Regions from separate parts of the Homo sapiens genome. Here all the other regions are reported to be linked to region 1. The links are microRNA targets in miRTarBase. Many come from high-throughput screens and were not tested one by one. Region 1 holds a microRNA gene; each other region holds the end of a gene's coding sequence.

The links. Region 1 holds the annotated microRNA hsa-miR-6880-5p (UGGUGGAGGAAGAGGGCAGCUC, at 2,763-2,784, opposite strand). A microRNA usually pairs through its seed, bases 2 to 8, with sites in the 3' UTR of a target mRNA and lowers its output. Matches are read on the target gene's strand: a 7mer-m8 pairs with bases 2 to 8, a 7mer-A1 pairs with bases 2 to 7 and ends in A, and an 8mer does both.
Region 2: the mRNA of LAT2 is a reported target of hsa-miR-6880-5p. The part of its 3' UTR that is shown has no 7-base or 8-base seed match.
Region 3: miRTarBase lists CENPN as a target of hsa-miR-6880-5p. Seed matches in the 3' UTR shown: 7mer-m8 at 1,868-1,874.

The regions. Positions count from the first base shown.
Region 1 is chr12:124,334,454-124,338,453 of GRCh38, forward strand. MIR6880 (microRNA 6880) reads right to left here and starts at 2,789; the gene lies at 2,728-2,789. It overlaps NCOR2 (nuclear receptor corepressor 2), which reads right to left. Exons shown (of 49, transcript NM_006312.6): 40 at 2,300-2,727; 41 at 1,030-1,179; 42 at 682-827; 43 at 1-164. RefSeq lists a silencer at 2,001-2,181.
Region 2 is chr7:74,224,021-74,228,020 of GRCh38, forward strand. LAT2 (linker for activation of T cells family member 2) reads left to right here. Exons shown (of 14, transcript NM_032464.3): 12 at 1-177; 13 at 619-740. The coding sequence ends at 722. Among named protein-coding and RNA genes, the nearest start is that of LAT2, 16 kb to the left of the region's middle.
Region 3 is chr16:81,028,001-81,032,000 of GRCh38, reverse strand. It overlaps CENPN (centromere protein N), which reads right to left. Exons shown (of 11, transcript NM_001100624.3): 10 at 3,704-3,830; 11 at 516-3,432. The coding sequence ends at 3,350. All of the region lies in intron 2 of CENPN-AS1 (CENPN antisense RNA 1), which reads left to right. Among named protein-coding and RNA genes, the nearest start is that of ATMIN, 5.8 kb to the left of the region's middle.

The sequences.
Region 1 (4,000 bases):
CGGGCCGGGGCACCATGGTCCGGGGGCGGGAGGTAGAGGTCACTGGGTGGGCGGCGGAGGTCCAGGACGGGGCAGCTGGCCCCAGGGAAGGAGTAGAGGGGGGCGGGCAGGGGTGCGCTGAGCTGCTGTGGGTGGTGCCGGGTGTAGTCCTGTGTGATGACCTCCTGCAGGCAAGTGGGGGGGCCCAGAGTCAGGCAGCACTCTCCTGACAGAACCTTCTGGGGGTGGGGAGGGGCTAGACGGAGCTCGGGGCAGAATCCTGGGTGGGGCCAGCTTCCTGGGTGACTGTGGACCTGCCCGCCACCCTCTGGGCCTCCGTGTCCCAGTGTGCATGGGAGTGGGGCTGTGGTCAGCGGTCCCAAGCTGGTAGTTGGCAGATGGCTGATGAGACCAGCCCATGACACTGAGAAACCTGGGCCACCAGGAAGGCCTCATTGCCCGTGAAGATGCCATCGGCTCGCATCACAGGCTCCTCCCATGGATTAGGGGGCGGTGATGGTGCCGGTGCTCGGGGCTTTGGGATCTCACCCTCACCCACGCCCTGGATCCCCCCAGCGCCATGCCCTGGATCCCCCAGCCACCCCGCCAGGACAGAAGGGCTGTGGGGTTCCCCATCCCCTCTCCAGGCCTGGTGCCCCCAGGTGCAAAGGTGACAAGCAGCAGCAGAGAACGCGTAGTTACACTGATGTGCTGGGCCAGGGTGACCACCCGCTGGTGACCTTTGACCCCTGGGGCGGTCTGGAGCAGCGGGCTGGACGAGGGCTGGCTCTCAGGCAGCGGCCGCAGGTGTGGGAGGTGGGCGGCCTCCCCGCCAAGCTTCACGGGGCCTGCAGGCAGAGCAGAGCTGGTCAGGGGGTGTCTGCTGGCCCCAGGGCTGCTGGGCCCAAATCCCAGCCCCATGCCTTTGAGCCTCATGATCCAGCCAATTCCTTGGCCTTTAGGCACCTCTGTTTTCCTATCTGCATGATGGGGCCTTGAGGGTCCTCACTGTGCAGGGCTTCGGGGGCCTGGGTACTGGGTGGGGCGTACCTGGCTGCTTGGGCCGCAGCTCCCCCTCCAGGTGGCTCTTGTCGAGCTCTTCCAGGTGCTTGGGGAGCCCCTTGTCGTGGGTCAGACTGGGTGAGCTCACAGGGCTGACGGGCTCCACCCCTTCGGGGCTGTAGCTGCTGCCGTGGTAACCTAGGGCAGGCGGGGGGTGCAGAGTCAGGCACCGGGCCCAGGGTTTCGGAGCCCGAGGGGCAGGGCTGCCCTCCCAGCTGGCTGGGACCCCGGGGGGGTCAAGGGGAACCCAAGCTAGGGGTAGGGTTTGGGCTCCCAAAGACAGTAAGGCAGAGAGGGGTGTTGGGGAGAGACAGGGAGGCCAAGGGAGAGGTGGAGAGAGATGCAGAGCCCGGGACAGAGACAGACAGAGAGGGAGACACAGAGAGAGATTAGGCAAGAAGGGACAGAGATGGGTTCAGGTGGTGGAGGCCGGGCGAGGCCAGCGTGAGATGGGGGCAGCATGGGTCTCTGGGGAAGGAGTGTGTGGGGCGGAGTGAGAAGTGGGGGTGTGGCTGGGAGTGACCCTGGGTCCCCGGGGCCCCGCCTGGGCTATAGCCTCGGCCATCCCAGTCCAACAGAGAGGAGCCATGAACTAGGGCCAAGGCAGGGGTCCAGAGGCAGAGGGCTCCCCTTTTTCTGGGGTACAGGGGCTGGGGACAGGGCAAGATGCAAGAGCCAGACCCAGCTCCTCCTCGACAGCGCAGGTCCCTGCCCCGCCTCAGCTTCTCCTTGCACCGCCTGCCTCCACTTCCCCCAGTCCGACAGCATCCAGGCAGCCGGCAGGTGGGGGCGTAGGCCCGAGCCCTCCCGCAGCCCCATCCCTGCTCCCTGGACACAGGCGCAAAGAGGGAGATGGGGGCGCAGTCGAAGTCAGAATCACAGATCCATTCATTAAAGAAAAAAAAGCAAAAATCCAAAAAAAAAAAACCATGGTAAAATGATGTGCAAATGATGAGCGCCCCCAAACCAGAGGGGCAGGCGCGGCCGGAGTAGTCGTCAGCGCGTGCAAACCGGCGAGGACGGATGGGCTTCAAAACAAAATACCAAAACCAACAACAAAAAAAACGGGGGCCAAAGTAAAAAGCAGAGATCTGAAAATATCTTTGGACCACGAGACGGGGTGGGTGCGGGCCGGAAGTCTTACCATCGCGAGGGGAGCCGTTGGCCAGCGCACCTCCTTCTCGCGCCCCTTTATCGTGAGCAATTTGACGCATGATAATCGCGTCTATGAAGGTGGCCGCTGTCAGGGTGGTCTTACCCAGAGAACGGAGTTCCAGTTCCTGGATGGAAAAGGGTTTACTTTGAGTCTTTTCCCGGTGCGGGTCCGAGGCCGAGGCAGGTGGCGCCGGCGGGTCCGGGCTGGCGTGGTGAGGTGCGAGGTTCTTCGCAGGGGTGCGGGCGATGGTGGCGTGGCCAGAGACAGGAGGCACTAGGGGCCGGGGCTCCGAGCCCTTGCTGGGGGAGGAGGCGGGCTCCAGCCCGGAGCGGGCTGGGGGCTTGGCGAGGAAGGCATGGCCGGTGTCTGCTCGGGGCCGCTCTGGCCGGGCGACCCGGGGGGCCTCCTTGGGCAGCAAGACGGGCTCCATGAGGGTAGGGTAGACCCCATCGAGGGTGCCGCCCAGTGGGCAGTGGGTGGCAGGTGGGAATGTGGCAGCCGGGCGAACGGGTGAGGAGGTGGAGGTGGACCTGGGGGAGGAGAGAAGGCGGTCAGGCAGTCATGGGAGCTGCCCTCTTCCTCCACCACCCTCGATGAGTCCCCATTGCCCTGGGATAAATCCACATCCCCTGCTGCTCCCAGAGTGAAACTGCCCTCCTGACTGTAACCTGCCAGACTCTGTGCGTCATGGTTTGACCCATCCCACTCATTCGTTCATTCATTCCTTGCATCATTCCAAAACTTCTGATTAAGCAGCTACTAGGTGCCAGGCACTGTTCTAGACACTGTGAATACAGCGGTCATAAAACGGATGCAAGCATCTTACCATCTAATTCAGAAAACAGACTACGATCACATTAACAGATATCCCAAGCTCTACAGAGCCTGGTAACTGTGTGGAGGTAGTCAATGAGGTACCAGGAGAGAACGGCAAGGAAGCTGAGGCAGGGCTAGGAGGTCTTCAGGGAGGGGGCACATGAGGGAGCTGGGCCTGCTCAGGATACCCGAAGAGCTAAAAAAGCCACGTGAGGAGTGAGAGAGCAAGGGGAAGGATGCCAGGGGGCGGCCAGGGTGGGCGTTGAGAACAGAGAAAGCTGCTGTTCCCAGCTCTGTGAGTGAGAAGCTGGGGCACAGCTGCCCCTGCACAGGGCTGGGGCTGGAACAGGAGCCGGCTGCTCCACCCACGTGGCCTTCCCGGAGCCCTGCGTTTCCATGGGGGCACCCCCATCTCTCGCTAACTCTACCTCCCAGAGCCTCATTCATGAGCGGGCAGTGGGCAGGCACTCGTTTTCTCCATTATATTTTTGAATCGGCTGTCACGGGCATATCCCACAGAGCCTGTGTGCGGAACCCTGCTCCCCACAGCCAGGGATTAGTGCTTCATGCACCTGCTGGGTCTGAGTCAGGGGTGACAAAGTCGCCACTGCTTTTGGGAAACGATGCCATTTTTCATAATTGAAATAATGATTAGGGGAGGTATGACTTCAGGCATCCAAGCGGCAAGTTGGGGCACAAGTACTTTTTTGAATGAAAATTCATTTTGGAGGAGTAAGTTGCCTCTAAATAGGTCCTGGAGGCTGAGTGCGGTGGCGCACGCCTGTAATCCCGGCACTTTGGGAGGCTGAGGCAGGCAGATCACTTGAGGTCAGAAGTTTGAGACCAGCCTGGCCAACGTGGTGAAACCGCATTTCTACTAAAAATATAAAAATTAGCCGGGTGTGGTTGCACGTGCCTGTAACTGCAGCTACTTGGGAGGCTGAGGCAGGAGAATCACTTGAACCCAGGAGGTGGAGGTTGCAGTAA
Region 2 (4,000 bases), not on the chromosome of region 1:
CCCAGCAGGAGGGCATAGGTGGCCTCTGCAGAGGGGACCTCAGCCTGTCACTGGCCCTGAAGACTGGCCCCACTTCTGGTCTCTGTCCCTCTGCCTCCCCGGAAGAAGATGAGGAATCTGAGGATTATCAGAACTCAGCATCCATCCATCAGTGGCGCGAGTCCAGGAAGGTCATGGGTAGGTGGCCGGGAGAAGAGGCAGGGTGGTCCACTTAGGGCAGGCTTGAGGGACTGGCCTGGAAGGGCAGGCTGAAAGTGGGCTTCCCTCCAGCCAGTCCAGCTAACCCCGCAGTGATGCCTGGGTGCAGGAGCAGCTGCAGAGACCTTGAACCACACAGGACGGCCCTTGGCAGCCGCCCAGCCTCCAGGGTGGGGTCAGGTCCTCCCGGGCAGGCCGCCCCATCCAGCTGCATGCATGGAGTAACGCATTCACCTGCTCTCACAGCAGGACGATCTCCGGCAAATCCCAGAGACAGGACAGACACACACCGCCAGGACCTGTCGGGCGTGGCATTTCCCGCGGGCTGTTTTGTGGAGTCTGGGGGTCTGAGTCTGGGGGAGCAGTCATGGGTGTCTCCATGTGAACCACTCGATGACCTGTCTGCCCGCTGGTCCACAGGGCAACTCCAGAGAGAAGCATCCCCTGGCCCGGTGGGAAGCCCAGACGAGGAGGACGGGGAACCGGATTACGTGAATGGGGAGGTGGCAGCCACAGAAGCCTAGGGCAGACCAAGAAGAAAGGTACAGCCCCTGCTCTCCAGCTGCCGTGGGCCAAGGATTGGAGGTCTTGCCAAGCTGCAGGACCCCCAATCCAAGGGAACAGCCGAGAGTGTGGGTGGAGGGGCCATGGTGGGGGCTACAGGGTGCACCCATGGGTGCTCCAAGAGGGCAGCTTGGCGACTCTGTTCCTCTGTTCTGGCCAGGGGCGTCAGGCAGGGAATTCTGGTGACTTCAGGGGCAAAGAAGTGGGCACCGGGTGGGTCTCCCAACTCCACTGCATCCTCCTGGCTGCGACCTTGGACCAAGTGACAACCTCCCAGAACTTAGTTCCTCACTTGGTGCCCACCTCTCAGAGAAGACATCGCACACACGGCCGGGCACGGTGGCTCACGCCTGTAATCCCGGCACTTTGGGAGGCCGAGGCAGGCAGATCACCTGAGGTCACGAGTTCGAGACCAGCCTGGCCAACATGGTGAAACTTCATCTCTACTAAAAACACAAAAAATTAGCCAGGCATGGTGGTGGGTGCCTGTAGTCCCAGTTAGTTGGGAGGCTGAGGCAGGAGAATCATTTGAACCCTGAAGGCGGAGGTTGCGGTGAGTTAAGATCACATGCACTCAACCCTGGGTGACAGAGCGAGACTCCGTCTCAATAAATAAATAAAAAAACAGACATTGCACACAAAGCCTCAGCCCAGCAGGCACTCGGTCAATGCTGGAAACAGACAGGAGGCAGGGACGTTGGGAAATGTAACAGTGGCTGAGACGCGCTGAGGAGCCACCGCAGGCCAGTGAGATGGTGCGGCGCTAAGCGCTCACACGTGCACCATCTCTTAGCACCCAAAGCCACAGAGCAGTTAAGCCACCTGCCCAAGGCCACATCTTGAAGTAAGGGGAGGAGGAGATGGAATCCCCAGTGGTCAGACATCAGACATCAAAGCCTAGGCTGGGTCTACTGCTTGGGAAGCACGATGGACCCCCAGAGGGCCTTGAAGGCTGCCCAAAGTCCCCATCTGGGAGACCCAGGCCGTCATCTCAGCGAGCAGGCTGGAGGGTGGAAACCACAGTGAACCTGGGTGGTCAAGAGTCAGCCCCAGAGGCAGGTGCAGGAGTTTGAGCCAAATGTGCAGAGCCCCACGTCATTCATTCAACCAGTATCCACTGGGCCCCTGCTACGGGCAAGTCCTGCTCTAGGTGCTGGGAACACCAACATAAAGAACAGCAAACCCCTGACCCCTTAGAACTTGCATTCTGGTAGGAGAGAGAAAACAGATAGGGCTGGACACAGCGGTCATGCCTATAAATCCCAGCACTTCGGGAGGCTGAGGCGGGAGGATCCTTTGAGCCTCTGAGTTTGAGGCCAGCCTGGGCAACATAGCAAGACCTCTCTCTCTACAAAAACTTTTTTTTTTTTTTTTTGAGACAGAGTATCACTGTCACTCAGGCTGGAGTGCAGTGGCGCCATCTCGGCTCACTGCAACCTCCACCTCCTGGGTTCAAGCGATTCTCGTGCCTCAGCCTTCCAAGTAGCTGGGATTACAGGCACACGCCACCATGTCCAGCCTCTATAAAAACATTTAAAATTAGCCAGGCATGGTGGTGGATGCCCTAGAGTCCCACTGACTTGGGAGGCTGAGGTGGGAAGATCACTTGAGCCTGGGAGGTCAAGGTTGCAATGAGCCATGGTTGCTGCAGTGAGCTGTGGTCGTGCCACTGCACTCAAGCCTGGGCAACAGAGCAAGACCCCATCTCAAAAAAAAAATTTAAAAATTAGCTGGGCATAGTGGTGTGTACCTGTAGTCCCAGCTACTTGGGAGGCTGAGGCAGGAGGATCGCTTGAGCCCAGGAGTTCAAGGCTACAGTGAGCTATGATTGTACCACTGTACAGCCAGGATGACAGAGTGAGACCCTGTCAAAACAACAACAACAACAAGAAAACAGATAAGAAGACATGGCATGTTCACTGGTGGTAAGTCTGGCAGAGAGAAACAAAACAGGGAAGCGGGGCAGGAAGTAGTGTGGGGTTGTGGGCAAGACGCAGTGTTGCAATTTAAGGAAGGCGGCTAGGGAAGCCTTTCAGAGCTCCCTTCCTCACCCCATCTGGGGGAAGGACATCCAGGCAGAGGGGACAACAGAGGCCCCAGGGTGGAGTGAGCCCCACAGGTCTGAGCAAAGCCAGGGGCCAGGGAGGAGCAGGTGAGGGGAAACTAGTGGAGGTCGAGGCCGTTGGTGGGGAGGCTGACCAGGCAGGGCCAGCACTTGGGGTTTTACTGCATGAGATGGGAGGGAGGGAGGGAGATAGAAAGGTTGTTTTTTCTTTTTTTTTTTTTTTCGTTCCTGTCGCCCAGGCTGAAGTGCAATGGTGCAATCTTGGCTCACTGCAAACTCCGCCTCCTGGGTTCAAGCGATGCTCCTGCCTCAGCCTCCCGAGTAGCTGCGATTACAGGTGTCTGCCACCACACCCGGCCAATTTGTATTTATTTTATTTTATTTTGTTTTTTGAGAGGGAGTCTCGCTCTGTCACCCAGGCTGGAGTGCAGTGGCGTGATCTCGGCTCACTGCAACCTCTGCCTCCTGGGTTCAGGTTTCTCTTGCCTCAGCCTCCCGAGTAGCTGGGATTACAGGCACACGCCACAACACCTGGCTAATTTTTGTATTTTTAGTAGAGATGGGGTTTCACCATGTTGGCCAGGCTGGTCTCAAACTCCTGACCTAAAGTGATCGGCCCACCTCAGCCTCCCCAAGTGCTGGGATTACAGGCATGAGCTACCATGCCTGGCTAATGGGAAGGTTTTGTACAAAGACTGGCTGGATGTTTCTAATTCAATTTTTCTGGCTGTTGGGCAGACAAATGGGTACTGGGAGAGTGGGTACAGGAAGCCCAGGAAGGACCCAGGCACTGGTGCCATCTGGGCAAGGGGTGGCAGCAGTGGAGACAGGGGTAGGCAACATGGTGAAACGCTGTCTCTACATAATATACAAAAATTTGCCAGGTGTAGTGGCGCATACGTGTAGTCCCAGCTACTCGGAGGTTGAGGCGGGAGGATAGCTTGAGTCTAGGAGGTTGAGCTGCTGTGTGAGCTGTGATTGCACCACTGCACTCCAGCCTGGGCCACAGAGCAAGACGCTGTCTCAAAACAAAAACAAAAAGAAGAGGCCAGGCGCAGTGGCTCACGCCTGTAATCCCAGCACTTTGGGAGGCTGAGGCAGGCTGATCACCTGAGGTCAGGAGTTCGAGACCATCCTGGGCAACATGGGGAAACCCCATCTCTACTAAAAATA
Region 3 (4,000 bases), not on the chromosome of region 1:
TGTGCCTCAATATTCCCTAGTCTGAAATTTCCCTAGTAGTTTCACAAATGAAACAGTGAGTTGGCCATGAAGAGAAAAATCAAGTTAAATAGAATTTTGGCTGGGCACTGAGGCTCACACCTGTAATCCCAGCACTTTGGGAGGCCGAGGCGGCAGGATCACTTGAGGTCAGGAGTTTGAGACCAGTCTGACCAACATGGTGAAACCCTGTCTCTACTAAAAATACAAAAATTAGCTGGGCATGGTGGCACGTGCCTGTAATCCCAGCTACTGGACAGCTGGCAACCAAGGACGTTGGATAAAGAACCTCAACCAAGGTAGGGGGTTAAGGAATGAGACAACTCGTAAACAGAATCCGTGGCCATGGGAGAGGTGTGGAACACAAGGGGTTCCTCCTGCAGGAACTGTGCTCGAATCCGTGGCCGCACCAGAACAAAGAAGGGAGTTGCTTTTTTGTCCCACTCAATTCTGACACCATTTAATGTCATCCAAGGGGCAAAAGACCACACTGCAAAGCAGCAAGACAAGGTGTTTTTATTGAGGTCTTAGGAATTGCAATTTGGGAGACAGATTCAGCTAGAAGCCACTTGTGTTCTGAAGAGAGAGGGTAGAGGAGGGGTTTTTAAAAAAAGCTGAGGGTGATTAGACAAGTTGACAAGTTGTTTTGAAAGAGGCAACTGGCTTAGTACAAAAATCCATAGTTTATTGGTTGGTGCTGTTGAGGAGTTGTAGTGCTGGTGAAATAAAATTTTCCAGGATGCAGTGGTCATCGCAATTTGGCCCAATTCAAAGGTTCAAGGTAAGCTCCTGTATTGTTTTTTTTTTGGAGCTTTTAATTTTTTTTCAAGTTGCAGGTCATGTAGGGAGTCCTTTTTAGAATGGCTTCCTCCCTCCATTTTAGAGCTCTGAACCAAAGTGATGTCATTTATTTTATTTTATTTATTTATTTTTTAAGATGGAGTCTCACTCTGTCACCTAGGCTGGAGTGCAGTGGTGCAGTCTCGGCTCACTGCAACCTATGTCTCCCGGGTTCAAGCGATTCTCCTGCCTCAGCCTCCTAAGTAGCTGGGATTACAGGTGCACACCACCAGGCCCAGCTAATTTTTGTATTTTTAGTAGAGTCGGGGTTCACCTTCACCATGTTGCTAAGGCTAGTCTCAAACTCTTGACCTTGTGACCCACCTGCCTTGGCCTCTGAAAGTGCTGGGATTATAGGCGTGAGCCACCATGCCTGGCCTTTATTTTATTTTTTGAGGCAGAGTTTCACTCTGTCACCCAGGCTAGAGTGCAGTGGCATGATCTTGGCTCACTGCAACCTCTGCCTCCCCGGTTCAACCAGTTCTCCTGCCTCAGCCTCTCGAATAGCTGGGATTACAGGCGGCTGCCACTACCCCCAACTAATTTTTCTATTTTTAGTAGAGACAAGGTTTTGCCATGTTGGCTAGGCTGGTCTCGAACTCCTGACCTCGGGTGATCTGCCCACCTCGGCTTCCCAAAGTGCTAGGATTACAGGCGTGAGCCACTACACCCGGCCCAGAGTGAAGTCATTTTTCTATATCATGTTTCACACTTGCTTAATGTGTGGGGGAAACCCCCTCCCCCACATATCTGGTATCAGAAGTGTGAGAGTACACTAGGAGAAACCTCCTGAAGTGCTGGGATTACAAGTGTGAGCCACCATGCCCAGTCTAATGTGTTTCTGTAACTCCAAATCCTCTCTGAAACAAGATAAAGAATAGATTTTAAAATGTTTAAAAAAGACATGCTGGCGGGCGTGGTAGCTCATGCCTGTGATATGGTTTGGCTGTGTCTCCACACAAGTGTCACCTTGAATTGTAATAACCCCCATGTGACAAGGGCAGGGCCAGGTGGAGATACTTGAGTCATGGGAACGATTTCCCCCATACTATTCTCATGGTAGTGAATAAGTTTCATGAGCTCTGGTGGTTTTATAAATGGGAGTTTCCCTGCACAAGCTCTCTTGCCTGCCGCCATGTAAGACATGACTTTGCTTCTCATTTGCCTTCCACCATGATTGTGAGGCCTCCCTGGCCACGTGGAAATGTGCGTCAGTTAAGCCTCTTTCCTTTGTGAATTACCCAGTCTTAGGTATCTTTATTAGCAGCATGAGAATAGACTAATACACTCCTATAATCCCAGCATTTTAGGAGGCTAAAATGGGCAGATTGCTTGAGCCCAGGAGTTTGAGATCAGCCTGGGCAACATGGAGAAACCCTGTCTCTACTAAAAATACAAAAATTAGCTGGGCATGGTGGTGCAGGCCTGTAGTCCCAGCTACTCAGAGGCTGAGGCAGGAGAATCTCTTCAACCCAGGAGGCAGAGGTTGCAGGGAGCCAAGATTGTGCCATTGCACTCCAGCCTGGGCGATAGAAGGAGACTTGTCTCAAAAAACAAAAAACAAACAAAAAAAAAATTAGCTGGGCAGGATGGAGCGCGTCTGTAATCCCAGCTATTCGGGAGGCTGAGGTGGAAGGATCACTTGAGCCTGGGAGGTCCAGGCTGCAGTGAGCCATGATCATGCCACTGCACTCCAGCTTGGGTGACACAGTGAGACCCTGTCTCAATAAATAAATAAAGAAATAAAAAATTAGAAAGGAAAAAATTTTTAAAAAGATAGGGTATTTAGTGATGATCACTGAAGTACTTTGATCAAAATTAACTGATGTGCCAGTTTTTTGACACCTTTATTCATAAGTCAATATATTTGTCAGTTTGAATGTTATACACATGATAAAATAGATTATGAGAAGTATCATATTTACAATAAGAACACTATTTTATATAACTGACTCACCAAATATGCAACCTCTTGCAACAATAACAGAATGGACTCAACTCCATCCTTTGAATAGACCAATTTCATGATTCTCCTAAAAAGTTTTGAGTTGAGTATAGTTCCTTGTTGCTTCTCTCTGTGATCCAGAGCTTAAGAATCAATCCCTGGAAACCAGCCACTGGAACCAGACCTCTCCAGAATTGAGAAGAGACAGCCATAGAAAAAAGGACACAAACCCAAAAGTCTTGAGCGCTGTGCCATATGCTTGATTTCAGAGCATTCAGGCACTCAAGGTCAAGTGTGGGGCCATATATATATATGTCCTGTCATCTCAAATGCCACAACGGCTACAGTTAGCAGGATATCAGAGAGAGGAGGCATATCGTGGAGGAATGAATCAGTCCCAACAATTATGTGAGCATTTCTAAAAATTCAATACCAAGGATTCTTGAAAATACAAGTTTACAGACGGAAGCTATACAGCTAGCCATGAACTGAAGTGCATGTGCAATATCAAGAAGGAGGAGCTGTGCTTAAGAAACCACGCACGTCTTATTTATCTCTAATTTTAAAATAATTCATTCTCTTGTTGGGTATGCAAGTGAGCAGTGGAGAAAGTGGAGCATCTGCAATACCTGAAATTAAAAAAAAAAAAAAGGGAAAAAGAAAATTAAAAGTCATCACAGGAGGATGGATTTGAGTCAGTTTAAAAATGGCTGAGATTAGAGGGTGGATCATAGATGCCCCTCCTCCCTATTAAGTACAGAAGCAGAAGATGCAAGAGAGAGCAGGATGGGCTAGCAGACTAGGGTGATGGGTGAGCTCAGAAGTAATTAGCAGATTATAAGGATGGAATGGAGGCATGTTGTTAATTTTTCTAGCTTATAGAGTAAGCTGACCACTCACCCGCTGGTGCTAAGGATTTCAATGCTTCCAGAAGATGTGGGCTAGAGAACTTTATTAGGCATCGGAGGGGTTCTTCCCTCTCAGCCAAGATGCTCCCATTTAAACCACTTTTGAATTTCGTTTCAAGCTGTCAACAAACATTTATAAATGACTATTAAACATATTGTATAAATACGAATGGTAAAATATAATGAAATCATAATGATACGTTTCATTAATTCTTGCCATTAAGAAATACAGGAATTAACAGGGGTGGGGACCATTTAATCTGCTAACTGCAAACATAGAGGGCAGGTC